Linked DNA regions of Homo sapiens: all the other regions are linked to region 6. The links come from fine-mapping of genetic effects on gene expression. A gene starts in region 6. Each other region holds a variant in brackets. All regions are shown on one strand. Distances are between the middles of the regions. Region 1 has its middle 71 kb from the start of MIR4693. Region 2 overlaps PDGFD (platelet derived growth factor D). Region 3 overlaps PDGFD (platelet derived growth factor D). Region 4 overlaps PDGFD (platelet derived growth factor D). Region 5 has its middle 110 kb from the start of MIR4693. Region 6 holds the start of PDGFD (platelet derived growth factor D).

Region 1 (5,293 bases), 390 kb after region 6:
TAGGTGAGTTCAATATCTTGGATCATTGTAAGCATGCTGTTTCTTCATGGTCTATCTCCCTCCATTCCACTTCCAGCTCAGTCTGCTCACAGCTCTAGCCACAATCCTTGGGATATTTGGTCTTCCTGGTTACTTTCTATATGCTGCCAAATACCAATTCTAGAATGGCAGCTCCTTCCAGCCATTCAAATGCTGAATTCTGCCCAGCCTTCCTTCTTTTCACACACAGTTTGGGACAAACCTGTGAGACTGGTTACTCAGAGGTCATGCACTTCTGCTTTCATCCATCTTACTCTTTCATGGCATTCCTAGGGATTTTCTCTGTTTCTCAGATTTCTGATTTTTTTACGAATTTGTTTCAAAATAGTGATATAAAACTTAATAATTCATCCTGGCTAACACGGTGAAACCCCGTCTCTACTAAAAACACAAAAAAATCAGCCGGGCGTGGTCGCGGGCGCCTGTAGTCCCAGCTAGGGCGTGGTCGCGGGCGCCTGTAGTCCCAGTTACTCGAGAGGCTGAGGCAGGAGAATGGCGTGAACTCGGGAGGCGGAGCTTGCAGTGAGCTGAGATCGCGCCACTGCACCCCAGCCTGGGCGACAGGGCCAGACTCTGTCTCAAAAAAAAAAATAATAATAATAATAATAATCGACACTTATAAAGCATACTGTATGTCAGGAATGTTCTGAGTACTTTAATCTTCACAACAACCCTATGAAGTAGGTTATTCTATTATTATCATTTTACATATGAGGAAACTGAGGCACAGATAGTTTAAGTAGGTTGCCTAAGGACACAAGCTAGGAATTTATAGAGCCCAAGTTTGAACCCTGTACATTTCCAGGGGCACTTGTCATGCAGTCTGTGCTATTGATACTATCTGTATCCTTGTGTTTTATGTTATAATATATTATGATCCCATAGAGGAAAAAGGCTGTGTCTTCTGAATCTTGGTGTCCCTCCATCAGGAACTTAAAACAAGCTGAAAGATGTTCTGGCTGCTTGCCAAACCTTTTTTATTAATTGCTACAAAATATTGAAGTATTAAAAATTCCATTTATATTAGTGAATATAAATGAGTGATTTGCCAGAAGAATGTCCTTCCTTCCTCCCTCTTTCCATGTTTCAATTCAGTCACGATATAGCATTTTCTTTTTTTCTTTTTCTCTTCTTGTTTTCTCTCCTTTATTTTCTTTCTCCTCCTCTTCCTCCTCTTCCTCTTCCTCCTCCTACTCTTCCTTCTTCTCCTTCTTATTCTTCTTCTTCTTTCTTCTTCTCCCTCTCCTCCCTCTCTCTTTGTCCTGGAATATTTTCTCTCAATTGATTTCACATCCCTACAGTATCAACAACAGGACCTGAATGACTTAGTGCAATATTTCCCAAAATGTGTTTTGCAGATTGTTGCTAGTCGTAGTGTTAAGAAAGGTAGTGGTAGGAGGATGGGGTCAGTGGGAAAATAAATTTGAGAAATGTGGGAGTAAACAAATATACATAGATTTATATAGGGAAGCCATTAATAAGCCTGGAGCTGTTAATAAGCTGGTATACATTATGACTCTTTAAGAAGGGGAGACAGCCTGTAGAATTTTCCAGGTCTATGTGACAGCAGACTCTAACAATGGGATTTGAGAGTTACTCTGTCAGGAAAAAACATACATTCAAATTAAAGGGTATCAGTTCCAGAGTCATTGAGCCTGGGGTTTGAATTTTGTCTCTTCCATGAAATAATTGCATGACTTTGAGTAATGTATTGAACCATTATGGAAAAATCAACTTATTTCATAGGGCTATTGTACCAAATGAGTACCTGAATTACTTAATAAATAATTTTAAATTTTTATTTATTTTTACTCTATTTATTTTTAAATGACAATTTTATTAACCATGAAAGTACCTGAAACAAAAATCAGTGTATACTTATGAAAACAAGAGCTCACAGAGAAATGTGGGTTACTCAATCTTTCTTAACACCTTAATTTCTATAAGGACTGAGCTGGTAGGAAGCTGCCCTATTATGGCTAGATTAGGTCAACATGTCTGAACCAGTTATGGTTGTTAGGAGCCAAAAATAATAAAGAACGCACCACTGAAGGCAGCAGCCATGGTTTCCTGACTATCCCCCAAACCAGAGAAAATTATGTTGACTA[G/T]TCTTAACCTGGAGCCATTAGGAAGAATAACTAAACCAGGCTTATGTACTTAGATATGATTCAGGACTTTTCATAAGTTAAATTTTTGACATATTTTCAAAATAACCACTATGTATGACAGAGCTTTTGTCATCCCCTTGAACAAGGAAGAAGAATCTTAGTGTACCTGCAGGCAGCCCTGTGTAACCTCAGAAGAACAGACTTACAGGGCCTGGTTTGCAGTAATTTTTCTCACATTTTTCAGTTTTAAATTTTATTTAGTGGCTGTAATTTGTTTTTCACCACTTCAGACTTGCAAACTTTGGTGAAAGAGGTGGGCAGAAACCTTAAGTCATTTTCCCTTATGGTAGGGGTAAAACTGGGACTCCATGATGAATAAAGAATTGGATTTAAGGGTCTTATCTGAGGATAGCAAGCTCTCATGCTGATGCAAGTTCTACAGACCCATTTCATTATTTCATTTAAAACAGGTTACATTAATCTGTTTTTTGGTAGAAATACATAGATCTCAATGTCCATTTTCAAATAATGTTAATAAATAGAATTACTTGTTTTTGTTTTCTAAACTTTAAAGCAAAGTTTTCCTCTGCACATTAGACAACATCCATGTGTATGAGCACATCTGGTAGTATGATGGAGTGAGGCTGAACAAGAGCAAGGGAAAATGACACAGTCCAGTCAGTAATTCCCACAAGAGGAGCCTTTGACTTATATAATGTTGCAACTCTAACTTACATAACATTGTAAACTCTGACTTACATAACATTTCAAACTTGATGTGCCCAGCATCGTGCCTTAAAAAAAAGAGAGGGTCAAACTCTTTGAGTCTGGTGAGAAATGCCAGTAGGCAGAAGGCTGCTGCTGTGAGAAGCTGATAGCAATGAAAAAAATAAAATGAAACCCTGGAGGATAATATTTACTTCTTTGACAATCCAAGTTACCCTCTACTCCAGAAGTTGGCAAATTTTTCCTGTAAAAGGCCAGATAGTAAATATGTCAGATTTTGCAAATCATATAGCCCCCGTTGCAACTACTTAAGTCTACTGTTGTAGCACAAAAGCAGCCATTCACAAAACTGTAAGGAATGCGTGTTGCTACGTTCCAATGAAATTTTATTTATGGATGCTGAAGTTTGAGTTGCATATATTTCTTATGTGGTAGAAAATATTATTCTTCATTTGATTTTTAAAAATAATCTTAAAATGTGAAAATCATTCTTAGTTCTTGAGTCATCCAAAAACAGGTGGCAGGATGGATTTGGCCCATGGGCCATAATTTGTCAACCCCTACTAAACACTTGTGACTCAAAGTATGGTCCACAGACCAGCAGCATTGGCATCACCTGGTAGCCTACTAGAAATTTCGACTCTTTGGCTCCACTGCAAACATTTCATAATCAGAATCAGAATTTTACCAAGATAATTTATATGCATATTATTAGGGTAAGAACACTTAACATGAAATTTACCCTGTTAAAAAATAATTTCAGTGTGCAACACTGTATTGGTAATTATAGGTGTAATGTTGTCCAGCTGATATGTATACTTAATCATCTGGCATAACTGAAACGTTATACTTGATGAATAGCAACTTCTTACTTCTCCCTCCCTCAGCTCCTCATAACCACCATTCTACTCTCTGTTTCTATGAGCTTGCCTATTCTATATACCTCATATAAGTGGTATCATACAGTACCTGTTCCTCTGTGACTGGCTTATTTCACTTGGCATCATGTCCTCAAGCTTCATTTATATTGTTGTATATGACAGGATTCCCTATTTTTTCGAGGCAGAATTATATTCTACTGTATATATATACCGTGATGGACATTGAGTTTGTTTCCAAATCTTGTTTATTGTGACTAATGCTGCAATGAACATGGGAGTGCAAATATCTCTTCAATATTCTGATTTCAGATTTTTTTTTTTTTTTGAGACAGAGTCTTGCACTGTCGCCTGGACTGCAGGGCAATGGCATGATCTCGGCTCACTGCAACCTCTGCCTCCCAGGTTCAAGCGATTCTCCTGCCTCAGCCTCCCAAGTAACTGGGACTACAGGCGCCCACCACCACACCTGGCTAATTTTTTGTATTTTTAGTAGAGACAGGGTTTCATTCTGTTGGCCAGGCTAGTCTCAAACTCCTGACCTCATGATCAGCCCGCCTTGGCCTCCCAAAGTGCTGGGATTACAGGCCTGAGCCACTGCGCCCGGCCAATCTTTCAGAGATATACCCATAAATAGGATTGCTGGACCAAGAGGTATTTCTATGTTTAATTTTTTTAGGAACATCCATAATGTTTTCCATTGTAGCTGTAACATTTTATCGTACCTTATGTTATATTACACACAAAAAAAATCAAGTCAAAATGATTACAGGCTAAAACTTAAGGTTTAAACTGTAAAACTCCTAGAGAAAAACATAGGGAAAAAGTTTCATAACACTGGTCTTGGCAATGACTTCTTAATATGACACCAAAAGCAAAGGCAAGAAAAGCAAAAACAGACAAGTGGGAGACCACATCAAACTAAAAAAAAAAGTCTACACAGCAAGGAAACAATCAACACAGTGAAAAAAAAAAAGAAACCCAAGAAGTGGGAGAAAATGTTTCAAAACCATGCATCTTATAATAGGTAATATGCAAAATATATAAGGAACTTCTTCAACTCAATAACAAAAAGACAAAAGCCCAATTAGCAGATGAGAAAAAGACTTGAACAGACATTTATCCAAAGCAGACACAAATGGCCAACAGGTATGTGGAAAGATGTTCAATATCACCAGACATCAGGGAAATGGAAATCAAAACCACAATGAAATATTTACTTACACCTGTTAGGATAACAATTATCAAAAAAAAAAAAGATTATATGTTGGTGAGGATGTGAAGAAACTGGAATCTTGTACTGCTGGTGGGAATGTAAAAGGGTGCATCTAGGAGACTTTTCACCATTGGGAACCTCCTTCAAAATAATTTCTACCTACAATGACCGGCAACTTAAAAGGCAGTTACAGTAAAGACCAGTTACTTTCCTAGTCCCTGGATGATTACTCAAAATGTCACAGGAATCTGGCCTTATTATTTATTTAAAAGCCACTTTCTCATTCATTTCTTCTTTTGAGCCACTGATGCCTCACCAACTAGGTT
Region 2 (5,293 bases), 100 kb after region 6:
CAGTGTGAAAACGGACTAATACATCCCCTTGAGGTATACACCTACTGCTTTCAGGTAACATAATTTTTGATGGTGCTGGATTTAGTGATTTTAAAAATCCACTCTGATTTTAAAGTTCAGAAGTCTATGATTTAATGATGTTCCCAGGATAACCTAATTATTGCAGAACCCAGATTAATTCCTCTTCTGCTTGTTTATCAAAGTAAATTCTCTCTCTCTCTCTCTCTCTCCTCTCTCTCTCACACACACACACGTCTAAAACAGCATCATAGAAGGTAAGATGAATCAGTAAAGGACTCTTATAGAGATTTCCTGTTTTACCTTAATGTTGATGATGATATTGGTATGTATTGCCTGAGTATGTGTATTTGTAGAAAGGCGTCAAAATCTTTTGCTTTAGTAGAAAACTACCTTCCTTACCTCAAAAGCCTGTCCTCATTCTGTACTATTTAGCAGCATAATTGAATTCATGTCTCCCAGTTCTTTCCAAAGCTTGGAGCTTGGGGCAATTGCCCTAGTTTACTGGATCTGAGGAGAAGCTCTTCAGTGTTTATATAACTCAAAACTGTGGAGGTTCAAAATTAGAGGATTTTTTGTTTTATTTTATTGTGGTTCAGAGAAGATAGAGGTTCACAACGTTTCACAGGAATACATGGGAGATAAAATTAATAGCACTGACAGTTACTCTATATTTGTATCTCTAGAGAAGGCTGCATATCTGATCATCAAATTCATTAGCATATCTGTTGTGGAAAATGGTGATTAATCTGATTAAAGGCATTTTTGTTTTCTTCCCTTAACATGAATTTTCAAACATCCCTGTTTGTCGCCAGGAAGTAGCTTTGAATTTACTTATTTTTAACTGCAGCAATTCAGACAATGTTTGTAGTAGCATAATAATGTATTCTCTTTGTATGTCAGTTCTCATTTGGTTACTACTGCAATAAACTCAAGATTTAAGTGGATGAATAAATATATTGAATTAATATAAGTAATTATTCCTAACGTATTCTGAGGTATTGAGCTGCCATTTGGATATTTTTGCAGCCTAACAAAAAAACTTGTAATTCAAAACTTAAATGGGCCATTTTATATCAGATTGATAGCACCAGTTATGCAGTTTCACATACTTCGAGTTCAGAAAAGTCTTTTTATTAGACGGAGTCAAGGAAGAAAGATAGGAAGAGCCAGATCTTACGACATGCAGAGAAAGAACAGATGGAGGAATTTGCCTTTTCTGTGGCCAAGAACAGGGTTGAGAAATATCCCAGGAAGAACTTGCCCAAGGTTGTAACTGGAATGCTGGTTGAAGGTATCTGTTTCTGTGTGACAGAGAGAAACACTGGGTGCTGTCTGGGAACCAGGTGATGTTCACTGTTGCAGATGGAGTCAGAAGTTGCTACCCTTTATCTCCTATTGCAAACAAAATGTCATTGAAAAGCTGTCCCTTCTTCTCCCCTCCCACTCAGAAAAGCTTAGGCTTGACTAGAGGGGATGGTGTCTCAATTATGAAACATTCCACGAAACGTGAGAAAAACGAGAATAGAAACTAGAGGCATAGACAAGCCAAAAGTATGCTAAGATAGCAGAGGTCAGTACCTACTTGAACTTCTTCGAGTTGTAACCACTTGAAATGGCAAAAGCACCAGAAACGGCCAGGCATGGTGGCTCAAGCCTGTAATCTCAACATTTTGGGAGGCCAAGGCGGGCGGATCACTTGAGGCCAGGCGTTCAAGACCAGCTTAGCCAACATGGCCAAGCCCCGTCTCTACTAAAAATAAAAAAATTAGTCAGGCATGGTGGCATGCACCTATAATCCCAGCCACTCAGGAGGCTGAGGCAGGCATGGCTTGAACCTAGGAGGCCGAGGTTGCAGTGAGCTGAGATCACGCCACTGCACTCCAGCCTGGATAATAGAGAGAGACTGTCTCAAAGAAACAGAAAACAAACAAAAAACAGAAAGAAAAACACTGAATTTGCAATGTATCAAACATACACACACTGTATTTCATTGGATGAATATATCACATTTTGTTTATCCATTCATCTGTTAATGGAACAGATTTTTGATCGCTTTTAAAATTAGGGCATCTGTTAAGTCTTTTTTGCCCGCTCCCTCCCGATTTAGATGGGTGTTCAAATATATTTCTCTGAATACTGGCATATCATTGGTTATATGGGTTGCAAAATCTACTCTTACTCTGTGACTAGCTTTTTCAGTACATGTTTTGGTGTCTTTTAAAGAACAGACATTCTTAATTGATACAGTTTTAACACTTTTTTTTTTCCTTTTTGACTAGCATTTTAATGTCATGGCTAAGAATTATTTTCTTACTTAGTGTCATAAAGATATACTCTGTTATTTTCTATAAACTATACAGTTTACCTTTCATATTTTGACCCATTATTTAGCTGTAAAAAGG[A/G]ATGAAGTTCTGATATGTGCTTCAACATGTATAAACCTTGAAAACATTATAAGTGAAATGAGCCAGACACCATGCAAATTCATAGACGGAGAAAGTAGATTAGAGGTTACCAGGGCCTGTGGGAAGGAGGAAATGGGGAGGTTTTGCTTAGTGGTTGTAGAGTTTCTGTTTGAAGTGATGAAAAATTAGAAATAGTTGGTGATGATGGTTGCACAACATTGTAAATGTAATTAATACCACTGAGTTGTACACTTAAAGTGGTTAAAATGGCAAATTTTGTGATGTATATTTTACTCCAGTTTTTTAAAAATAATAGTGAACTATACAAAAACATTTGAATTGTACTTTAAATGAATGAGTTATGTGGTATTTCAATAAAGCTGTTAAAAAATACACGCACAGAAGCACCATATGGGAGACGTACCTCCTGAAACAGGGTTGGCACATCATAGGTTTGTTCATTCATTTAGTAAAAAGATATCAAGCATTTTTCACTCTGCTACTAAGCTGGACAAACAGAAGTATACACAGGAATGTCTCCTAATGAGCCAGACAGAATTCCCCTTGGCTACAAACTTATGCAGAATTTAACAATGGGCACTATAATTAAATCTGAATTAGCAACCCAGGGGCAGCCTTTCAACCCTTCCCAACCCCTGCACTGAGAGAAAACAGTGATACCCTCTATGCTTATCCCACCCAGATGTGTACCCAGGCCCAGTATAAATAGGACTGTACTCCTCCAGGCCTCTGGGCCAGCTACCTGGTCCAGAGAAGCATGCTCACCTTGTCCAAGACAGTGGAAAAGCCTAGCCCAGGAAAGAGGAAGCCACATGAGTCAGACATTACACCCAAGCATATGTGGACACCTGGAACCTCTCTGAGTTGCTGATCTGGACAAAACCTAGATCTAGAAGTGAAGATGCCAAGACACTGTCAAAATGTAATTCATAACACAGTGGATCTGTACAATCCTTTGCTGCTGTAATAGTGAATGTTTCTGATGTAACCCCCATTAGTCGGTCTTTTGAGATGACACAATGCCCTTATCAAACAGAAACAAATGGCAAACAAGCAAAATCAAATTAGGAGTTAGTGTATTGTCCTTCAAATACCATTTCATTCTGATGTTTCTCCTCAGGCTATCACCCATTTAGGCCAATCCCTTGCAGAAGCTAAATCTCCCATACAGTGAAATGACAACTGATATTCAAAATGATTTGTTTTCAAAGCAAAATTGTGTTTAAGCCTTCTAGGTGTTAGCCAGTTTGCTAGAGGTTAGGAAAATCAAGATATATAAGCTAAGATCCTGTTCTCATTTTAGTAGAAGAGACAAATAAATGTCAGAGGGGTACTATCTTGGAAACGGATTAGTTGACCTGAAATGCAGGGAAGAAATTGGTGAATCAACAACAGCAGAGTCTTCAGGGAGGAAGGCTGTTCAAGCAGTTTTGAAGGATTAGTTGTTCCTTAGGCAGACAAGACCTCAGAAGAGAGAGAAGAAAAAGGCACCTGAGAAATGCTTAAAAGTGGGAGTTTTTATAATGTAAATTGGAAAAGGTCAATAAATTAATTAGAGTTGGATTTGAATTAACTGATCTTAAAATAATAACAATACTGTAACAATCTAGTGCTAAATATTTATGGAAAATGTTCACTTGGGGGAGAGAGGGATGTTACATTTGTAAAAAGATACTTTGTATTTAGTTTATCAAAATAATGGATGATAAAGATATAAAGATATTTAAGAATCATGTCCTAATGAAATTGCTGACAGTTATTAAGAAAAAGGCTTTTTATTTTTAAGTAAAAGTTACATATGAAGATTGTATTTATTTAGGAATGTTTACGATTTATATTTGCTTAGGAATGTCAGACATTTTGAAGAACACACAACTTCAAAAACACAAATAGTATTTTACAGCCACTGTGAAACTCCCTAGCTCCAAATACTCTTTTTTGCCATTGAAATTTGTTTAGATGGATTTATTGAAGTATAATGTACACAGAGTCAAATTCACCATTTTCAGTTGTACAGGTTGAGTTTTGACAATTATGAACAGTTGTGTCACCACCACCACAATCAAGATCTGTAATATTTTTGTCACCTGAAAATGGCCCATGTCCCATGGTGCTTCCCTGTAGTTGATCCCCTCCCCTATCCTCATGCTCTGGCAATACTGAGCTGTTTTCTGCCCTTGTAGTTTTGCATTTTTGTGAGTATCATATAATGGAATCATGCAGTATACAGCCTTGTGTGTCTCGCTTCTTTCACTTAGCATAATGCTTTACATATTCGTTCACGTTGTTGAATGTATCCATAGTCCACTCATTTTTATTGTGAGAGGTTTTCCATCATATGAAACTCCTGTAATTTGGTTTATTCATTCAATGGGCATTTGCTCATTTAAATTTTTCTGGTTTTTAGTTATTACGGATAAAGCTACCATGAACTATGAACATGTGAGTATAGCTCTGTGTTGTTATTTCCTTGGCATAAATACCTATGAGTGTGGTAAGTGTATGTTTAACTTTATATGGATCTTCCAAACTATTTTCCAAAGTGGCTGATCCTTTGTGCATTCCCATCAACAATACATGAGAGTTCCAGATCTTTACCAGCATTCTCTGTTGCCTGTTGTCCTCGTTGTTGCTGTGTAATTTTAGTCTTTTTAGTGGATGTGTTTTGATATATCATTATGGGTTTGATTTGCTTTTTCCTAATGACTAATGATGCTGAGCATCTTTTTATGTGCTCATGTGCCATTCAAACCTCTTCTTCAGTGACCTATCTCTTCATATCTTTTGCCCATGTTGTATTGAGTTATTTTTCTTCTTATCGGTGAATGTATAACGTGTTTTAAATACAT
Region 3 (5,293 bases), 230 kb after region 6:
CAAGTACTAAACTTTTCTGATACTATTTATCCAGAAATTTTCTGACACTATTTTGCTTATTGGATGTTTTTTCTGCTAAGCTTTTCTTTTAGAGACTTTTGCCACTGTTTATGACTCATATGATTTGTAAGTATCTAGCTGCCTCACTTACTCTGTTTGCCAGCAAGCATTCATAAAAACCATATTGTTGTTTATCATATTGTGTGTGTCTATGAGGGCACACACATGAAATATTTTAAGAAAATCTCAGCAGTGGGACAACTTTCAGTTGTTTTTCCTCCTGGTGCCTGTGCCACCTCTGCTTTCATCCTAGACGCAGTTGTCCGTCTTTGTGGATATCCTAACCCCACCCTCATTATCAAAGTTATTCCCCTCATCTAGGCATGTCATTCAAATGCAAATCAATAGGAAAAATCCAGTTGACAGTGGAAAGCCATAGGTAACTTTTAGCGTCGGATGAACAAATGTGCATTTTCCACTGCAATTACTCTTGTTAAAGAGAAATGTGTGTTCCTTGTGTTTGCTGTGCTAATTTTTTTCTGTGAAGCATTGGAAAATTATTATGGGATTGTTTTCCTTTATGCCCCACTAGACTTAAGGAGACACTACACTGCTCCTAGAGCATATATGCTTGTAGGCCCTGCTGGTGCTGAGAGATCCAACTCACTGAGTGTCTTTACTTGCTAATATAGTTATGCATTGTGTCCCCACCCAAATCTCATCTTGAATTGCAATCCCCATAATCCCCATAATCCCCACATGTCAAGGGAGAAACAAGATGGAGATAATTGAATCATGGGGATGGTTTTCCCCATGCTATTCTTGTGATAGTGAGTGAGTGGCACAAGATCTGATGATTTTATAAAGGGCAGTTCCCCTACACTTGCACACATGCTCTCCCTCCTGCCACCATGTAAGACGTGCCTTTGCTTCTCCTTCGCCTTCTGCCATGATTGTAAGTTTCCTTAGGCCTCCCAGGCAATGCATAACTGTGAGGCCATTAAACCTCTTTTCTTTATAAACTACCCAGTCTTGGGTGTTTCTTTATCTCAGTATGAGAATGGACTAATACACTTGCAAAGGATAGTGTTACGTCTGATGTAATCAAACTGAAGACACCTGATCATTGGCTTTTTGTATTTAGTTCAAGGTGGGCATGGCCTTCTATTCCTTAGTAATCACCAATTACAGAATCTCAGCTCCTTCTAGTTTTAGGTGCTTCTGATTTAAACTTCCTTCTTTGATCTGTGTTACTCACTTCAGTAATAATGTGGGCATACCTACTGAGAGGTAGGATTTAGACCTGTGCTTCAAACACTCAAAACTCATTTAATCTTAACAAGTTCCTTGGCAGGAGCTACTGTGATTCCCATTTTGCATAGTAAAAGAAAAAAATTCAGAAAGTTTCTGTGAGAGCTAGAAAATAGAGAATCATGACATGAACTTGGCCTTGTTGGCTGCAAAGCTCATGCTGTGAGCAACTCAATGGTGTTTAAAGCTCAGGGATTCATAGTCTAGTAAATGAGAACAAGAAATTTTAAGACCTTCATCTCCTAACTTGTTTTTTAAAAAATTTTTCATTTCATAGATATGCTTTATACATCACCCCAGGTCATGAATTCCCAGGGTTCAGAGAATGGCTTTATGATGGTGTTACTGCTTTCATGGCTAATTCAGTGCCTTCCAGATATTCATTCAGTCATCCATTGATTTTCCAGTACATATGTGCTGAATATCTACTTACGTCCAGTGGCTTTAGGCAAGTCACTTAAGTCCTCTGCAACTCAGTTTCTACATCCATCCAATGGGAATTGTAATATCTAAGATGAGGGTTTGCTGTGAGAATTAAATGAAATTTGATTTTGTGAAAGCATCTCACAAAGTGCTGGATACATAGTAGTTGCTCAGTAAGTTTGCATTCACTCGTTGCTTCACAATGCTTCTAAACCTTGAAAATCAGGAATTGTCTGATTAAGAATCTTTTGCTGTGATTTAGGTTAATTTGTGTAAAAACAAGTGGTAAATGTTTTTATTCTTTAGATGTTAAACCCACATGTGGAGTCACAAAATTCAGTGTCTTTCATAATTTTAAGTTAAAGTATCCTGATAGTCCCTCATTAAAACTTATAAAATAATTGTCCTTTCCAGATTTATTTGCACTTCTGCATTGGGATTGAAATGTGAAAACAGTTTTCATAATTATGTGCTGATTTATAGAAGAGGGA[T/C]TCTGAAAATCACAGTGAGGTTGTAATATTCATAAGGATGAAGACTCCTGGTGAACTTATGAACCTTGAGAAAGGCTGAGAGCCCCTGGTTGTTTAACAAAAATAATACAATTATTCCTATAGTCCCCTCACCTCCCACCCCACCCCAAAGCATCATAAACCTGGTGCTGCAACATTAAAGGGAAATGTTTAGCACTTTTCATAACAGATTATGGCACTGTCTCCCATTTGACAAAGGCAATGTTCCTTAGCACCTTGATGTTTGCATCTGAGAACCAGTCTTCTCAAGACCATGCTCTACCATGTGTGCCACTCCTATATTTCACAGATCTTGGTGCCAGTCATCTCATGCATCTTGGTTCATCCTTGGCAGAGATGGTTCTAAATCCTAGTTTCTTAATTCTAACCTAACACTTTCGCACTACACCACATCCTAGACTAGTCTTGAGATAAGATCCAAACATTCAACATATAAAGTATTAATAATACTCTATGCATTCCTGAAAGATAGTTGGAATTGTTTCACCTTTGTGATAAAAAATTAAACTGAAAAAATCCATGGTTTATCTGATTCATTCAGGTAGTAATTATTGAGTGTCTATTTCTTGCAAAGGGAATCTGGCACAAAGACGATGTTGTGCTTCCTTCAGCAGCACCTTGCTCCTAATCGTTGAAGTCAAATGGTTTTAGAAGTGAGCTTGAATGAGCTGCATTTGGTCCTTACATTAGGGACAAAGTACTAGAAGAGAAGGGATAAAAAGATGATTAGCTCTCTACCTCCAACAACTTTTTTAGTTCAATAGAAGAGAAGCACCTGAATATGGATGCTTCTTAACTTTTGATGGGTTTACATCCCAATAAACACATTGTAATTGGAAAATATAGTTAAGTCAAACCACATTCAATACACATAGCCTACTGAACTTCGTAGCTAAGCCTAGCCTACCTTAAACATGTTCAGAACGCATATATCAGCCTATAGTTGGTCAGTATTATCTACCACAAAGCCTATTTTATAATAGAGGTTTAATAGCTCATATAATTTATTGAATACTTTACTGAAAGTGAAAAACAGAATGGTTTTATGGGTGCTCACCATTAACATACACAGCTGAAAGCACCATCAAAAAGTAAAAAAAAAAAAACTCATGTTGAACCATTGTAAGTTGGACTATCTGCAAAGAAAACAAAACAAGGTCTATGAAGTAAATGCTATAATAGAGGGCAGAAAAAGTGTGGTGAGTACATAGAGAAGGAGTCATAGGAGATGTAGAGTGAATATGCCTTTTGACTTGAGCTCTAGAAGATTAAAATAATATAGCAAGCTGAGATGCCAGAGAAAGCAAAACAGAAGAACAAGAGCATGGTTTTCAAAAACATCATGGCCCTACTTTGAGTGCTCATTCTCCACATGCCATCACCATGTGGTAAATATGCACTAGTATGTAGGCTGCTGCTGCATGCCTGCTAAGAGTTTATAAAGAACTTTAGCATTATAAAGGCTAGACCTTGTAACAACAATAAAATGATTACTGGTGCCAACATGGTGAAACTCTATCTCTAATGAAAATACAAAAATTAGCTGGGCATGTGGCACACACCTGTAGTCCCAGCTACTCAGAAGGCTGAGGCGGGAGAATTGCTTAAACCTGGGAGGCGGAAGTTATGGTGAGCTGAAATCATGCCACTGCACTCCAGCCTGGGCAGCAGAGCAAGACTCTGTCTCAAAAAAAGAAAAGAAAAGAAAAGAAAAAGATTACTGACTGTCTTCAAGGACATGCAGCAGTTTAATTGGATTCTCTGACAGTCTGTGGATGATCAAGAGAAAAAAGCATGTGATTCTACTATCAGAATAAAGATTGATGAATGGCCAGCACAGTGAAAGCCAACTGATAACTTAATGTTTAGAGACTGACTCAAGGAAACCATCCTCTTGTTGACCAAAACAAGCAGTAAATTATTGTGCATGTGGAGAACAAAGGTGCTTTCCCATGTTCAAAGTGAGGAGATTATTTTGTTTCATAATGAATTTTTGTATTCACAAAAACAGACTTACCTTTACATACCTTGATTTTGACCCAGTAAGGCACATTTTGGACTTCTGTCCACCAGAACAGGTAACTTGTATAAAATAATAAATATGTTTCACTTTAATAAGGAATAGATTTTTAAATTTTTATCTTAAGCTGATCACCACCCATGTTGTGCTTGCCAAGTATGTGAAATATTATATTGGTTTTATCTGTCCTACAGAAACTAGAATCTTTAGGATCCTGGCATTTGTTCCCACTGAGGACAAATCATTGCTATCAATCCATTCAGCTCCTAGATGAGGCAAGAAAGGGTTCAAGGAGAAATGAGGACAAAAGGAAGAGTGTGCATTGGCCAAAGTCCACTCGGTTCAGATAAAAGGACGAAATGTTTTATCACAATACCAAAGACAAAAGTAGACTCTGAATAGCTGCCTGGTTTATTAGTCAGAACTGAATAGGTGGATGAGGATACACAGCTGCTCGTGCTTGGGTATGTGTATTAATGACATTGTGAAAATGACAGGTTAGTGCCTATGGGTGCACCTAGGAAGCCAGGTCATTTGCACAGCAAGTGGTCCTCTGGTGGGAAGACTTCAGCATCGCTTGTGGAAGCTGCTCTCTGAACCCTCCTTCAAATCTTTACACTGGGCTCATAATGTACAAAAGGCATGAAGAGGCCTGGATTCAAACTCTGGCTCTACCACTGACTGGTTGTATGGCTGTGGACAAGTTTTTTTTTTTTTTTTCTTAACTTTTGAAAGGCTCAGTTTCCTCAACTGCAAAAGTAAGAGTAATGATTGTATGTAATTCATAGCATTTATGAGTATTTCATGCACTCATGATGAACACAGCACTTAGTAGTCTAGATGGCCAGGATCAAAAAGAACAGGTTGACTCTCCTTCCTCCCACACCTAATATTAGAAACTATAAAAGGGTGTGCATTCACATCCCCATTCTAGAGCTCAGATCCCAGCATTCTTATTACATCTCAAAGCACCTCTGTGATTAGGCTGCACCTAGAGGCAGGGCTGCAG
Region 4 (5,293 bases), 200 kb after region 6:
CATGTGAATTATCTAATTTACTCCTCAAACTAACCCTATGGAGGAAAGAAGATATTTTTCCCAGTTTACAATCAGGAATCTAAAGCATAGAGGCTTTACCTTGCCTAAGGTCACACAGTCGGTGTTCCATATGTAATTCAATTGAGTGCTCTGTCTCCAACATCAGTTTTTAAAAATGTTTTCACATGGTGATTATCAAATCTTTTCTACCATCCAAAACAGTGCAGGATATTTCATATTAGCAAGATAAGTAGCAAAAGAGTTTCTCAACTTGCCTCCTCTTCATTTACAGGCATGGAGTTTGCTTTTATTTTGTTTGTACTCAGAGATCCTTTGATGAAAGCCATCCAGGGCCATTTGTATTCAAGCATCTTTATGATCCCTGCTGGGTTTAGACATAGCTTTTAGTAATTCCTCCAAATCAATTCCTGCTGACCAACCTCAAGGGTCATCATAAAGTACTTAAGGGATTCTCATCTATTGAATCCTCTGATCAGGAAAACATTCTAACTCTTCTTTGAAAAAGAAAGGTAATTTTGTACCCTGCTGAGGGATAAGATAGGACTAAATTGTATTTGAGTGGAAAATGTTATTATCATTTGAGGGGTTTGATTACCAAAATAAGGAATGACTCCTAATTCTAAGATTGCCTTAAAGTATTATGGACATTTCAAAAAGTTTTTCCAAACCAACGGCACCGAATTCCTTGTCTTCAATTTTTTTCCACCACCCTCATTTCCCTGAATAGCTATCTGTTGTTTCTTGTTGGTTTCCTAGGAACCCCATTATGTTACTTAAGTTCACTGAATTCCAGATTATAAAAAAATGTTCTTTGTATTTTTCATATGCACTGAAAAGGAGACATGTGAGCAGAGGAGGTGAAGATGTGGCTATATTAACAACCAGTTTCCTACAACTTAGTGTAATGCAGTACAGTATGTCAAGAGACCTGGGCTGCAGGCACTAATTGGCAAGTGACGCTGACACTTAACCCTTTGGGGCTGTTTCCTGTATGTAGGAAAAGGGTGATCAGGATGACAGCTCTGTGAGAGCAGTGACGTTGAAGTTCTTTTTGTTTCTTTTTCTCCAGTACCTTGAACTGTGTAGTCAGTAGTAGTGGAAGCCATAAATACCTGTTGAACAAATGATTAAATGAATCGCTGAATAGATGATTAAGAAAAAATCCCAAGTGTGGTCTTCAGGATCCTCTGATTTGTCTTGTACCTTCTTTGTCAGTCTAATTTCCTGTCTGTTACTTTGGGCACATGACATACTCACAGATCCCAGATGATGCCAGTCTCTGCCTTAGTGCATGCTTTCTCCTTCACCTGCCTGCTTCCCTATCAAAATCCTTAATTATCATACAAAAGTCAATTCCAAGGCCACTTCTTCTGAGACCTTCCTCCAGCCTTCCTAAATGTACTTAAATCATTCTTTCTCCTGTAGAACTATGGGGCTTTGCTTATGGCCCCAGTAGAGCATTTATTTCTATAGATTGGATTATTCATTTATTCATTCTACAAATATTTATTAACATCTGCTATGTAACAGCCAATATGCTATGACTTTACATTACTCATCTCATTTGAATCTCACAGCAATTCAATGACTAGTCATTCTTCCATTGCAACACTATTTATTGAATGTAAAAGGTTAACAGGCCCTGTTGTAGGTACTTGGTGGGAGAGCAATGAGAAAGTTAGAAAACATTTCCACCCTTAAGGAGCTTACACCCTAATGGAGAGACACAAACCTGGAAACAAGTACAGAAATAAGTGAATAAGATGCTATGGATTGAATGTGAGGGTTTTCCCTAAACTCATCTGTTGAAATCCTAATCTCCACTCTGTTGGTATTGACAAGTGGGGCCTTTGGGAGGTAAATAAGACATGAAGGTGGAGCCATCTTGATGTGATTAGTGCCCTTGTAAGAAGAGACATGAGAGAAAAGATCTCTCTCTCTCTCTACCATGTGTGGGCACAGCAAGAAGACATCCATTTGCAAACCTGAGCCCAACCATGTCAGCACTCCGGTCTTGGACTTCCCATCCTCTAGAACTGTCAGAAATAAAGTTCTGTTCTTTACAAGTTACATATCCTATGGGAATTTGTTCTAGCTGCTCCAACTGACTAAGACACAAGATAATTCGAGATAATGGTAAGCCATTAAAAAACTTAAAGTTGCTGATACAAAAAGGAATGACAAGAGTAGGACATTAGAATTAATCTAGACAACACATTTCTTAAGGTCAATTTTGCTTCCTGTGCATCCATGCATTAGCCAACACCTTGCTCAATGACTTACATACTTTGGTCATTCAAAAATCTCAGTCAAAT[A/G]GTGAATAAAACTTTGAACTCAGTAGTCTATGAGATCCCTTGCAACTTCCAAACTGGTAAGAATAAAAAATAAATACATAAGTAAATAACAGTTTAAAGTGTAAGTGTGAGGCATGAGGCCTGCCAAAAAAAATCCATGTCCAAAGAATATCTCAGCTAATCCTTGGGCGTGGGCAATAACCTAGTCAGCTCTGAATTTTCCCAGTCCAGTAGAGGAGAAGCAATAGTTCACCCAATCCCTATTTTTCCTTTCACTCTGGAATGCAGTTTATCCTTTTTTTGGCACCAAAAATACCTTTGTAATTGTATTTGGTTTGGATGAATATGGCAGTAAATTTGCATTCTCTAAGTACACAGATGTAACGGTACAAAAAATTATAGCAAGATGCAAAGAAGAACCAATCTGGGATTAAAATTTTGCTGTGCAAAGCCTAGTGTTTTCACTCATAAAACTGCTGATGAATATTGCTAGTGTAATAACTGGTCAAAGTAAAAGATGTTCCTGTTAACTGATGATAACCAAAAGTAAAAAGGAATTTTTAATGCCCATACGCATGAACTAATAGAAATTAAATTGCAGGATCTCTCATTTAATTACCATTTATCCTATTCCAAAATGATCCTCCCAGCCTGGAGGAGAAGACTTCAAGTTGTTTACTTGGAGGGATGAAGTCCTATGGACTGAGTCAGGCAGTTGCCCCCAGGAGGTCTCTTTCACTGATGTTAACCATGGTGTTTGGCAACAGTATTTTTTCTCTTTGTAAAGTTTTATCAGCTCTGTCATAAATTCTTAGGAATTTATGAAAACCTGTACTTAGCACAGTCTGAAACTCACGACCTGTGTGCTTGGCACTCAGTTCCAACAAGTTCACCTAATGGGCCCAGATAGCAAGCCTGCTTTGGAGATCCAAAATGTGCCAGCTGCCTTAGTTAGTTGCTAGTTGAGTGGGGAGTGGAAAGAGGAAGTACAAAGTCAAGAATATACGAATCTCCCCTTTTGTGAGAAGAGTAATTTGCAAGGGTATGAGTCCTATGCTTTTGTTTCAGACTTTACATTAACCATCTCTCTAGTTTAACCACATAAATGACTCTGGAAATCCCCTTAGAAAGAAGTCAGGTCAAGAAAAAGGTACTTTGAATTACTTGTTTTCATTTACATAGCTGTATAGTAGTAACATGACTCTTAAATATTTTATATTCAGTATGGCCCATAGTGCCAAATGATAATTATGATGGGTGGCAGCTCTGATGAATGAACACTGGTCCAGTGTAAGGATAAGGATGAATGTGTAGAGGGAAAAGGTGTCACAACGCAAAGTCACCTCACTAGGAAATACCCATATTTTTAAAAAGAATGGACAGCTTTTTTAATACTTTACAACTGACACTCCTGATTCTCTTAGAAAATGTTCCCGTTTACATTATAATCCCATCACTTGCTGAGTAACATTTCATGAGTGCTCTTTTTCATGGAACCGTACCAGCTGTGTTGACTGTGGCTTTGGCTTTTAGACTTCAAATGGTATTTTCTCCCTAAAGTCAGATCTTAGGAGTTTTAATTAGTAATGGAATAATTTGAGTTTTTAGAGATAATGATTTTAGCTAAGGGATTTTGGTGACATGGCCTTAATCTTCATACTGTTTGTAATTCCCATTTTCTCTAATTACTGGTTTTAATAATGTAACTAGCTTTTGGCCACCATGAAGAAAATCTATTTATATAACGTCAGTCAAGTACAGAGAAATTTAGCAGTTATTGGGAGTGTGAATTTCAGCACAGAGGCGTGAAATGGTTTGTTGAATTCTGAGCATGAAACAGTATTTCCTCTCTTAACCACAATAATAAAAACAAACCAAACAAACAAAAAAGAGTGCTTACTATGTACCAGGCACTGTGCTTGCAAGAAAATGAAAATATGAATCAGGTCAGTATTTCTTCATTTCAAACTTGTAATTTTCCTAAGGTGCAGGAATAATTTCCTAAGTCATTCATTTTAGCTTGGTATAAACAATCTTTAAGATTAGCTTAGCAATATCAAAAGTACAATCTTTAATAAATTTCAGACCACTGGTGAATTGAATCAGATGTTCTCTTTGAAATGCATTTAAGGAATTTATGAAAACCTGAACTTAGCACAAATCAAGAAGATTCGTTTATTTTATAAAAAGGATTATTTATAAAAGAAAAGAGGAATTATTCAACAAAGATGAAAGAGTACAGAGACTCAGCCACGGTTTCAGGTATCTGTGGCACTTCCTTAATAATAGGGCTTGCATCCTGTCTTTCTGCTTCCTCATCTTTTAAAGCTACTGTAGAAATGATGAATGAGATAATTTATGGAAAGTATTTCATATAGTCACCGGCATAAAATCTGTGCTCCATAAGTGGCAGGCGTTACTGCAAAATAATTAATCACAGAGTTTTTTTTTTTAATGCTAAACAACTAGTCACAAAATTTAAATCTGAACCTAGCTCTTCGGCAACAGATTGTAGAAATACTGTAGTATTTCTCTAGGTGTAAATTAAATGTTCACTTACCAAACACCATGGAGGTTGGTGAACCAACACCATACACCAAACACCATGGTATGACCAAACACCATGGAAGCTATTAACAAAGTAGTATTTTGCAATTTGCAACTTTCTGTGCAGCCCCTTGGTATGCGGCACCCCTCTCTCTATCTGCAAACACGCTGATCCTCTCTAGTTCTTGAATATCATTCTCATGACCCCTTTTAAATCAATGACCCCCTTCTCTTCTCAGCTTGCTGGACTGGGATTTGCTCTAATCTTTACTTACTATATCGAGAACAAATTCCCAAACTAGCCAGTTTTCCCAGCACCATTTATTAAATAGGGAATCCTTTCACCATTGCTTGTTTTTCTCAGGTTTGTCAAAGATCAGATAGTTGTAGATATGCGGCATTATTTCTGAGGGCTCTGTTCTGTTCCATTG
Region 5 (5,293 bases), 420 kb after region 6:
TGAAAATGTAAGTAGACCAATAACAAGTTCTGATATTGAGTCAGTAATTAAAAACCTACCAACCAAAAAAGCCCTGGACCAGATGGATTCAAAGACAAATTTTTCCAGATATAAAAGACCTAGTACCAATTCTACTGAAACTATTTCAAAAAAATAAAAAAGAAATTGCTCCTCCCTCACTCATTCTATTAGGTTAGCATCAGCCTAATACCAAAATCTGGAAGAGACACAGAGAAAAAAGAAAACTTCAGGCCAATATCCCTTATGATCATAGACACAAAAATCTTCAACAAAATACTAGCAAACTAAATCCAGCAGCACATCAAAAAGTTAATTCACCATGATCAAATAGGCTCTTATTCTTGGTAGGCAAAGGTAGTTCAGCCTATACAAATCAATAATTGTGATTCAAATAAACAGAACCAAAAAAAACACTATATGATCATTTCAATAGATGTAAAGAAAGCCTTTGATAAAATCCAAAATCCCTTCAGGATAAAGCCCTCAACAGACTAGGCATCAAAGAACATACTTCAGAATAATTAGAGCCAGCTATGAAAACTCATAGCCAACATCATACTAAATGGCCAAAACCTGGAACAATTCCCCTTGAAAACTAGAATGAGACAAGGATGCCTGTTCTCACCACTTCTCTTCAACATATCACTGAAAGTCCTAGCCAGAGCAATCAGACAAGATAAAGAAATAAAAGGTATCCAAATAGGAAAACAAAAAGTCAAACTCTCTCTTCTTGCTGGCAATATGATTCTATACTTTAAAAATTCTAAAAATTCTGTGAAAAAGGGTCCTAGAACTGATAAACAACTTCAGTAAATGTGCAGGATACAAAAGCAATGTACAAAAATCAGTAACATTTCTATACACCAATAACATCCTAGCTGAGAGCGAAATCAAAAACACAATTCCATTCACAATAACCACCAAAAAATTAAAGTAACTAGGAATACAACAAAAGAGGTGAAAAATATCTATAAAGAGAACTACAGAACATTGCTGAAAGAAATCAGAGACAACACAAATAAAAAAATATTTTATGCTCATGGAGTGGAAGAATTGACATCATTAAAACAACCATACTTTCCAAAGCAATTTACAGATTTACTGCCATTCCTATCAAAATACAAATGTCATTTTTCACAGAATTGGAAAAAAATATTCTAAAATGTGTATGGAGTCAATAAAGAGCCCAAATAGCCAAAGCAATCCTAAGCAAAAAGAACAAAGCCAGAGGCATCACATTAACCAACTTTGAACTATACTATAAGGCTACAATAACCAAAACAGCATAGCACTTGTACAAAGACAAACACATGGACAAATGGAACAGAATAGAAAACCCAAAAATAAAGCCACATATCTACAACCATCTGATCTTCAGCAAGGTTGAAAAAAATAAGCAATGAGGAAAATACTCCATATTCAATAAATGGTGCTGGGATAACTGGCTAGCCATATGCAGAAGAATGAAACTGAAACTTTACCTTTCACCATGTACAAAAATTAACCCAAGATGGGCTGAAGATTGAAATGTAAGACCTTAAAGTATAAAAATCCTAAAGAAAACCTAGGAAATACCTTCCTGAACATGAGTTTTAGCAAAGAATTTATGGCTAAGTCCCCAAAAGCAATTGCAGCAAAAATGAAAATCAACAAGTAGGATCTACTTAAACTGAAGAGCTTCTGCACAGCAAAAGAAACTGTCAACAGAGTAAACAGACAACCTACACAGACAACCTACACAGACAACACAGAGTATAAGAAAATATTCACAAACTGTGTATCTGACAAAAGTCTATTATCCAGAATCTACAAGAAACTTAAACACATCCACAAGAAAAAAAAGTAATCAAAAATGGACAAAGGACATGAACAGATACTTCTTAAAAGAAGTCAACAAGCATATAGAAAAACGTTCCACATCACCAATCATCAAAGATATGCAAATCGAAACCACAATGAGATACCACCTCACACCAGTCAGCATGGCAATTATTAAAAAGTGAAAAAGGAACAGATGCCAGCAAGGTTCTGAAGAGGGAA[T/A]GCTTTTACACTGTGGGTGGTAATGCAAATTAGTTCAGCCACTGTGGAAAGCAGTTGGAAATTTCTCAAAAAACTTAAAACAGAACCATCATTCACCCCAGCAATCCCATTACTAGCTATATACCCAAAGGAAAATAAATCATTCCACCAAAAAGACACATGCGCTCATGTGTTCATCACAGTGCTATTCACAATATCAAAGACATGGAATCAACCTAGGTGTACATCAATGGTGGACTGGATAAAGAAAATGTGGTATGTATACACCATGAAATACTACGCAGGCATAAAAGGAATAAAATCATGTCCTGTGCAGTAACATCCTCAGCAAATTAACTCAGAAATAGAAAACCAAATACTACATGTTCTCACTTATAAGTGGGAGCTAAACACTGAGTACACATGGACATAAAGATGGGAACTATAGAAACTCGGGACTACTATAAGGGGTAGGAAGAGAAGGGGGTGTGTGCTGAAAAATTATCCACTGGGAACTGTGCTCAATACCTTGGTGACAGGATCATCCACACCCTAAATCTCAGCATCATGCAAAACACTCATGTGACAAACCTGCACATGTACCCTGTAAATCCAAAATAAGAATTCAAAAAAAAAATGTGTCCTAAGAAGCCACCTTGGTAATATTGCCTGGTGGAATATTCAGATGCCTCAAGCCACAGCCAAGTTCTAACTGTACCTATTTGAGACTCTAAATAAGAACCACCTAACTGAGCCTGTCCACCTACAATATAATTATATTAGGGTAATTTATTACTTTGTGTTACATAATACGTAATTACGACAACACTAAAGTAACGAGTTATCTATCTGAAACAATGTATGTAAAAACACTTAAAAATTTTTCACCATTATACAAATGTTAAGCAAATTTGGAAAAATAGTACAATAATTGTTTTTTTTCCTTGTTTTTATTTTATTTTATTTTATTATTATTATACTTTAAGTTTTAGGGTACACGTGCACAATGTGCGGGTTAGTTACATATGTATACGTGTGCCATACTGGTGTGCTGCACCCATTAACTCGTCATTTAGCATTAGGTATATCTCCTAATGCTATCCCTCCCCACTCCCCACACCCCACAACAGTCCCCAGAGTGTGATGTTCCCCTTCCTGTGTCCATGTGTTCTCATTGTTCAATTCCCACCTATGAGTGAGAATATGCGGTGTTTGGTTTTTTGTTCTTGCAATAGTTTACTGAGAATGATGATTTCCAGTTTCATCCATGTCCCTACAAAGGACATGAACTCATCATTTTTTATGGCTTTATAGTATTCCATGTTGTATATGTGCCACATTTTCTTAATCCAGTCTGTCATTGTTGGACACTTGGGTTGGTTCCAAGTCTTTGCTATTGTGAATAGTGCCGCAATAAACATACGTGCGCATGTGACTTTATAGCAGCATGATTTATAGTCCTTTGGGTATATACCCAGTAATGGGATGGCTGGATCAAATGGTATTTCTAGTTCTAGATCCCTGAGGAATCGCCACACTGACTTCCACAATGGTTGAACTAGTTTACAGTCCCACCAACAGTGTAAAAGTGTTCCTATTTCTCCACATCCTCTCCAGCACCTGTTGTTTCCTGACTTTTTAATGATTGCCATTCTAACTGGTGTGAGATGGTATCTCATTGTGGTTTTGATTTGCATCAAATCAAACCAGTGATGGCGAGTGATGGCGAGCATTTTTTCATGTGTTTTTTGGCTGCATAAATGTCTTCTTTTGAGAAGTGTCTGCTCATGTCCTTCGCCCACATTTTGATGGGGTTGTTTGTTTTTTTCTTGTAAATTTGTTTGAGTTCATTGTAGATTCTGGATATTAGCCCTTTGTCAGATGAGTAGGTTGCGAAAATTTTCTCCCATTTTGTAGGTTGCCTGTTCACTCTGACGGTAGTTTCTTTTGCTGTGCAGAAGCTATTTAGTTTAATTAGATCCCATTTGTCAAGTTTGGCTTTTGTTGCCATTGCTTTTGGTGTTTTAGACATGAAGTCCTTGCCCATGCCTATGTCCTGAATGGTAATGCCTAGGTATTCTTCTAGGGTTTTTATGGTTTTAGGTCTAACGTTTAAGTCTTTAATCCATCTTGAATTAATTTTTGTATAAGGTATAAGGAAGGGATCCAGTTTCAGCTTTCTACATATGGCTAGCCAGTTTTCCCAGCACCATTTATTAAATAGGGAATCCTTTTCCCATTGCTTATTTTTCTTAGGTTTGTCAAAGATCTGATAGTTGTAGATATGCTGCATTATTTCTGAGGGCTCTGTTCTGTTCCATTGCTCTATATCTCTGTTTTGGTACCTGTACCATGCTGTTTTGGTTACTGTAGCCTTGTAGTATAGTTTGAAGTCAGGTAGCATGATGCCTCCAGCTTTGTTCTTTTGGCTTAGGATTGACTTGGCGATGAGAGCTCTTTTTTGGTTCCATATGAACTTTACAGTAGTTTTTTCCAGTTCTGTGAAGAAAGTAATTGGTAGCTTGATGGGGATGGCATTGAATCTATAAATTACCTTGGGCAGTATGGCCATTTTCATGATATTGATTCTTCCTACCCATGAGCATGGAATGTTCTTCCATTTGTTTGTATCCTCTTTTATTTCATTGAGCAGTGGTTTGTAGTTCTCCTTGAAGAGGTCCTTCGTGTCCCTTGTAAGTTGGATTCCTAGGTATTTTATTCTCTTTGAAGCAATTGTGAATGGGAGTTCACTCATGATTTGGCTCTCTGTTTGTCTGTTATTGGTGTATAAGAGTGCTTGTGATTTTTGTACATTGATTTTGTATCCTGAGACTTTGCTGAAGTTGCTTATCAGCTTAAGGAGATTTTGGGCTGAGACAATGGGGTTTTCTAGATATACAATCATGTCATCTGCAAACAGGGACAATTTGACTTCCTCTTTTCCTAATTGAATACCCTTTATTTCCTTCTCCTGCCTAATTGCCCTGGCCAGAGCTTCCAACACTATGTTGAATAGGAGTGGTGAGAGAGGGCATCCCTGTCTTGTGCCAGTTTTCAAAGGGAATGCTTCCAGTTTTTGCCCATTCAGTATGATATTGGCTGTGGGTTTTTCATAGATAGCTCTTATTATTTTGAGATACATCCCAACAATACCTAATTTATTGAGAGTTTTTAGCATGAAGGGTTGTTGAATTTTGTCAAAGGCTTTTTCTGCATGTATTGAGATAATCATGTGGTTTTTGTCTTTGGTTCT
Region 6 (5,293 bases):
TATTTTGGTGAGTCTGAGATACATGTAAAAAATAAATTGAAACAATCTTCTATCTTTGTACCAGACCTTTCTCACTAAAAGAATATTTTTATTAAATAATATTCTGTGTACAATGATACCTCAGTTGATATGATCAAACTAATTAGTAAGAATTAATTATTAGATATTTTAAAACCAGGTCCAGAATAATTGGTTGGGTTCAGGTGCCTAATTTGTGTTTTATTGTTGATTTTGGATATTTACTGACATTAAAGATCAAGAACATGTTGATTATATGTGATATCCCTTACTATTCTTACCTAAAATATTTGAAATTATGAATTCACAATGCCTTGGGAGCTCAAAGTATTAGTATCTTGGAAAACACTACATTGAATATTTAAAATTCATTATTTTATATAAGATATTAAGACACAATTTTAGCATTTTGATACTTGTAATAAGTCAGTATCTTGATACATGTCATAATTACATAATTATAAGTCATTTGCAAATTTTCTCCGTTTTTCTATAGTCTCATATCAGAAGCTAAGTATGAAATTGAATGAGCATTTCCAACCACTTCTAAAAAACGATATCACATATTTCAATTAGTCCCTACTCCTATCCCATCTATCTCTACCCCTTTTCACTTATTAACACAGTTACATACTTACTTGTTTATGTTCCCTTTCCTCTATTATAATGTAAACTCAAAGAGATTAGGAACTTTATTTCTTGTTCACAATTTAATCCCCAAGATTTTTAGACCAGGGCATAACACAAGGGGAAAAACTAATGCTTAATTAATACCTGTTGAATGAATAAATGATCCTTAGTGTCTCTCCCAGGGTTTCACTATATCCTGAAACAATGTAATTAGATCTTTTTTTCCAGGGGCTTTCAAACTTTTTTGATCATGCCCCAAAGAAATAACTATTATATTGTAGTGTTCGTGTATCTGAAACAAAATATTCATAAAACAATATTATTATCTCCAATGAACCCTGATAATTAAATTTCTAAACTATTGTATTCCAATCCATTTATTTAAACAATTATTCTGGTATTGAAGTTGATTTCATGGCCCACAAACCTAAATTTTGTAAAATACCATTTTAAGCCAAAAAGCCAATAGAGATGAAACATGTTGATCTTTGACTATGTTGAAGGGACACATGAACCCTCGTCCTTGTTGGATGGTATAATAACTTGACAAGGCTACCTTTTCCAGAACTTCCTGCCCTTCTCAGCCACTTAAAGTTCCCTATGTATGGATATCACTTACCATATGCCAGACTTTCAGGAGCTGGAAGGCCTGAAAAAGACTGAAAATTTTCTCTTCTAGATCTCATCAGCGGAAAATTGAGAAATCATATAAATTTGGATTTGGATTCAGCTACAAACAAAACAATATGCTAAACATTTTTTCACATCATTCTCACCACAACCATACAAATTAACAATTGCTACTCTTGCAAATAAATAAACTGAGTTTCGAAAGATCAGATGATTTGCTCAAGGGGACAAAGCCAGTGAGCAGCGAGTCTGGACTCATTCCTTTTCCAAATACAGTCCCCTCCCATGGGCAGACAGACACACGATGTAAACCAGAGGCAGCCCCTTTCAACTGCTGAGCTTCCAGACGCAGAGTAGGGAGAATCCCAAAAGCCTCAACGACCCATGCCTCTTCCTATGGACTGTGAAGGCAAGTGAGCACAGTGTTCTGCAACTTCTTCCCCTTGCTCAGTCTGTTCCTGCTCAACCCCACTCTGTCCTGTTGCCCTTTCCTGTGGAAGGGCTGGAGCTAGTGCATATAAAAACGCTCGTGAAGACTTCTTGCCCTTATTGTACACTGCACCACATGGCCCATCACGTCTACAGCCCTGTGTGATAGGTGGTTCATCTTGCTGCACCCTAGAAAAGGCATTTTGGTGTCCAATACTCTCTGGTACCAGGATGCCCTGACTCATCCTGGAGTTCGCGAAAAGTGAAAGCTACGCCATCCCTCCATCAGTCTCGACCTTTTCTCGGGCATTTTTGATAGATGGAGGGACTCAAGAGTAGCTTTCTCTGGGTGATATACTTTTATTTTTATTTTATTCCCTGAAAAGGTACCCTTGACTCACCCAAAGGTCACACTGATGGGAGCTCAAAGAAAAGCTCGGAATTAAGCTCCTTTGTGATTGTATTTTTTCACTATAAACAGTGAAATTTTAACTAAGTAGAGTCTCATTTTGGTTATTGTAAAATAAACACTCCCAACTCCAGTCCCTGTCCCCACATCCCACCACCATCAAGGCGGAGAGCTGTGGCTTGTGGGTGGATGTGCCAGTCACCTCTGAAGAAGTGCTGGGATTCTACCCTCTCCCACTTCCTCCTGGCGAGTTTGTTTCCTGAGCCCTTACAGGTCCAACCAGGAGGGTAAAGCCCAGGGCGGTGGGAAGAGTCCCGGCCGGCGATTAAACTGGGCATGCTCAGTGGCAGAGCAGGTTTAGGCCCGGCCTGGGAAACTGGGGAGCTGAGGTGCTCGCGCCGCCGCTCTGAGCCCGAGTGCGCGCCTCTCAGGGGCCGCGGCCGGGGCTGGAGAACGCTGCTGCTCCGCTCGCCTGCCCCGCTAGATTCGGCGCTGCCCGCCCCCTGCAGCCTGTGCTGCAGCTGCCGGCCACCGGAGGGGGCGAACAAACAAACGTCAACCTGTTGTTTGTCCCGTCACCATTTATCAGCTCAGCACCACAAGGAAGTGCGGCACCCACACGCGCTCGGAAAGTTCAGCATGCAGGAAGTTTGGGGAGAGCTCGGCGATTAGCACAGCGACCCGGGCCAGCGCAGGGCGAGCGCAGGCGGCGAGAGCGCAGGGCGGCGCGGCGTCGGTCCCGGGAGCAGAACCCGGCTTTTTCTTGGAGCGACGCTGTCTCTAGTCGCTGATCCCAAATGCACCGGCTCATCTTTGTCTACACTCTAATCTGCGCAAACTTTTGCAGCTGTCGGGACACTTCTGCAACCCCGCAGAGCGCATCCATCAAAGCTTTGCGCAACGCCAACCTCAGGCGAGATGGTAAGAGACTCATTTTATTTTTTAACTGAAAAAAAAATCATGTTTGCTATTGTTATTGTTCTTTCTATGTTTTTCCCCTTTCTTTTTGAATCTTGAATGTGAACTCGGGCTGAATGCATTGTTTGGGGAGGGAGGTCTCCTGCCTGTATCCAGTCCTGAGAGAGCTCCATTTCCGGAATGGGACTGAGAGGTGTGGGACGCGTGCTGATGGGGATAGGATAAGCCAGGTGGCTCACCTTGCTGCACCCTAGAGAAGTCATTTTGGTGTCCAAGCCTCTGGTACCAGGATGCGGTGCCTCATCCCGGAGTTGGCGAAAGTTGCAAGCTGCGCCGCCCCTTGGTCAGACTCAACCTTTCTTAGGCAATTTTGATAGGTGGAAGGAGTCAAGAGTAGCTTTCCCTGGGTGATAGACGTTTATTTAAATTTTATTTATTTATTTATTTATTTTTACGAGTGAGAGGAGAAATCGTGCGTTTCAATCTAGCAGTTATATCTGGAACAGTGACAATTTACTATTTATTTTCGGGAAATGGCAGTGTGCAGCCTATTGCCCTTTAGGTCCCCTAAGTGACTTTCCTATTGAAGTTCACCCTGACTCAGAAGCTCAGAGTGTAGGAGACCAAGGCTTCTGGGGTTTCATCAGTACCACAGGGGCACCAGGCTTCTGCTGCTAGTTTCCTTGCAGAAGCGGCTTCCAATTATCTACAAGGAGCACAGCTCCTGAAACAGCTGTCCTAAGCAAGGTCCCAAGCCAGCTTGTTTGTTTTCCTTTACTCTAGAGGACACCTGGGTCACTGGTTCCAGAGACCCTAAGCTGAGTTTATTTACTTTCTGGGGCCTCCACCTAAAACTGTAGCTGATGTTCCCAGCAAATTTTAGCTGTTCTGCCATGTACCTGAACTGACCCATAGGCTTTTGGATCTTGTTTTTTCCTACATCAGTATCTTTCTCTCCTGCTTGCTTAAAGTACTAACACATCTCCCAAGGAGACCATCAAGCAATTGTTGATGGCTTCACAGTTTCAGCTGACAGTATTTGACTGTCTTGGTAAATTCCTATTAGCCATCTTATCAGTTTCTTTCTTGGTATGTCCTTAATTTGGAATTTACTAAATGACTTTTGGACTTTGCAGGGAAACCAAAATTTCATTATGTTATCTGATGATGAGTAGACTATGGATATCAGTGTACTCGTCACCTGAAGTGGTGTAGATTTGTAGCAGGGGAAGCCACAGAGTCATCTTACTTTTTCATAGCGTTTTTATGTAAAAGATTCCAGCCGTGCATTTTTGGTAACTCTCTGTCTTAGTTAAAAGCACGTAATTTATTTATTTATTTATTTTTTTACTACACTTAAGGATTAGGCCCAACACCAAACTGTGTGGTTTTTTGTCTTTACTCTTTAATGTTTCCACTAGGGACAGATCTTGTAGGTTTGTTATTAGTTGCACTTTATATGTCCTTTTAGCTACATAGAGTAAAATTCCACTTGTAATTTGCATGACTTCATAGCCATAATTTTGTAATCCTCACCCTCCCAAGTATCAGTTACAAGAAGTCAAGGACAGAAAATGAAAAGCATGTAACCATTGCCCATTAACCCAAGATTCTGACTAAAACCAAGTTATGTAGCTCAGCAGGTTTTTTTTTTTTTGAAAGAGAATAATCTCATTTTAGTTTCCATTGTTAAAACTCTATACATCTCCATACATCTGTTCAGTCTATATGGGAAATGCTATGTTTCATGAAAGCTTTAAAAACTACCCTGGATTTCTCATTTCTTCATATTTCAGTTAAAACTGTTTTGCAGTTACTTTAACAGTACACACACACACACACACACACACACACACTCTCTTTGATTAGTTCTGATTGCTCAATACTTTCCTCAATGTCAATGTCATCTTACAAGCAAGACTAGGAAGGAGAAAAACGTAGTTACACATTAAAATTTGTTTTATATAGAGTAAAAAATGTTAATATTCATAATGGATTGTTAGTTTAGAAAATTTTCAAATGGCAGCTTTTTCCTAAATGAGCATGCATTCTTCAAGTGGGGCAATATTGTCCCCAATGGGGTGCAATTAGATCTTAGAGGGTGAACACAATCTTAGATATTGCAACGGTCTGTGTTCCTTCAAAGGGCTAGCAGATATAAATAGATATACATTTCTGTGGTATTACCATTCACAAGGAGGGAGAGTGATCAGAAAAGAAGTCTAAAAAGAGTCTTTAAGGGATGGAGGTTAGCAATAG

What was found. PIP is the estimated chance that this variant, and not a neighbour inherited with it, causes the effect.
Region 1: its variant is the best candidate, but not a certain one, in a credible set for the expression of PDGFD in lung (TOPMed, PIP 0.74).
Region 2: its variant is the best candidate, but not a certain one, in a credible set for the expression of PDGFD in lung (TOPMed, PIP 0.63).
Region 3: its variant is the best candidate, but not a certain one, in a credible set for the expression of PDGFD in whole blood (INTERVAL, PIP 0.76).
Region 4: its variant is the best candidate, but not a certain one, in a credible set for the expression of PDGFD in whole blood (INTERVAL, PIP 0.75).
Region 5: its variant is the best candidate, but not a certain one, in a credible set for the expression of PDGFD in whole blood (INTERVAL, PIP 0.87).

What each region holds. Positions count from the first base shown.
Region 1 is chr11:103,776,116-103,781,408 of GRCh38, reverse strand. No RefSeq gene overlaps it. Among named protein-coding and RNA genes, the nearest start is that of MIR4693, 71 kb to the left of the region's middle. The variant G/T (reference allele first, on the strand shown) is at 2,148.
Region 2 is chr11:104,058,268-104,063,560 of GRCh38, reverse strand. All of the region lies in intron 1 of PDGFD (platelet derived growth factor D), which reads left to right. Among named protein-coding and RNA genes, the nearest start is that of DDI1, 24 kb to the right of the region's middle. The variant A/G (reference allele first, on the strand shown) is at 2,424.
Region 3 is chr11:103,930,263-103,935,555 of GRCh38, reverse strand. All of the region lies in intron 5 of PDGFD (platelet derived growth factor D), which reads left to right. Among named protein-coding and RNA genes, the nearest start is that of PDGFDDN, 26 kb to the right of the region's middle. The variant T/C (reference allele first, on the strand shown) is at 2,226.
Region 4 is chr11:103,957,527-103,962,819 of GRCh38, reverse strand. The region is part of intron 3 of PDGFD (platelet derived growth factor D); the gene reads left to right. Among named protein-coding and RNA genes, the nearest start is that of PDGFDDN, 53 kb to the right of the region's middle. The variant A/G (reference allele first, on the strand shown) is at 2,337.
Region 5 is chr11:103,741,410-103,746,702 of GRCh38, reverse strand. No RefSeq gene overlaps it. Among named protein-coding and RNA genes, the nearest start is that of MIR4693, 110 kb to the left of the region's middle. The variant T/A (reference allele first, on the strand shown) is at 2,062.
Region 6 is chr11:104,161,548-104,166,840 of GRCh38, reverse strand. It overlaps PDGFD (platelet derived growth factor D), which reads left to right and starts at 2,694. Exons shown (of 7, transcript NM_025208.5): 1 at 2,694-3,037. The coding sequence starts at 2,914.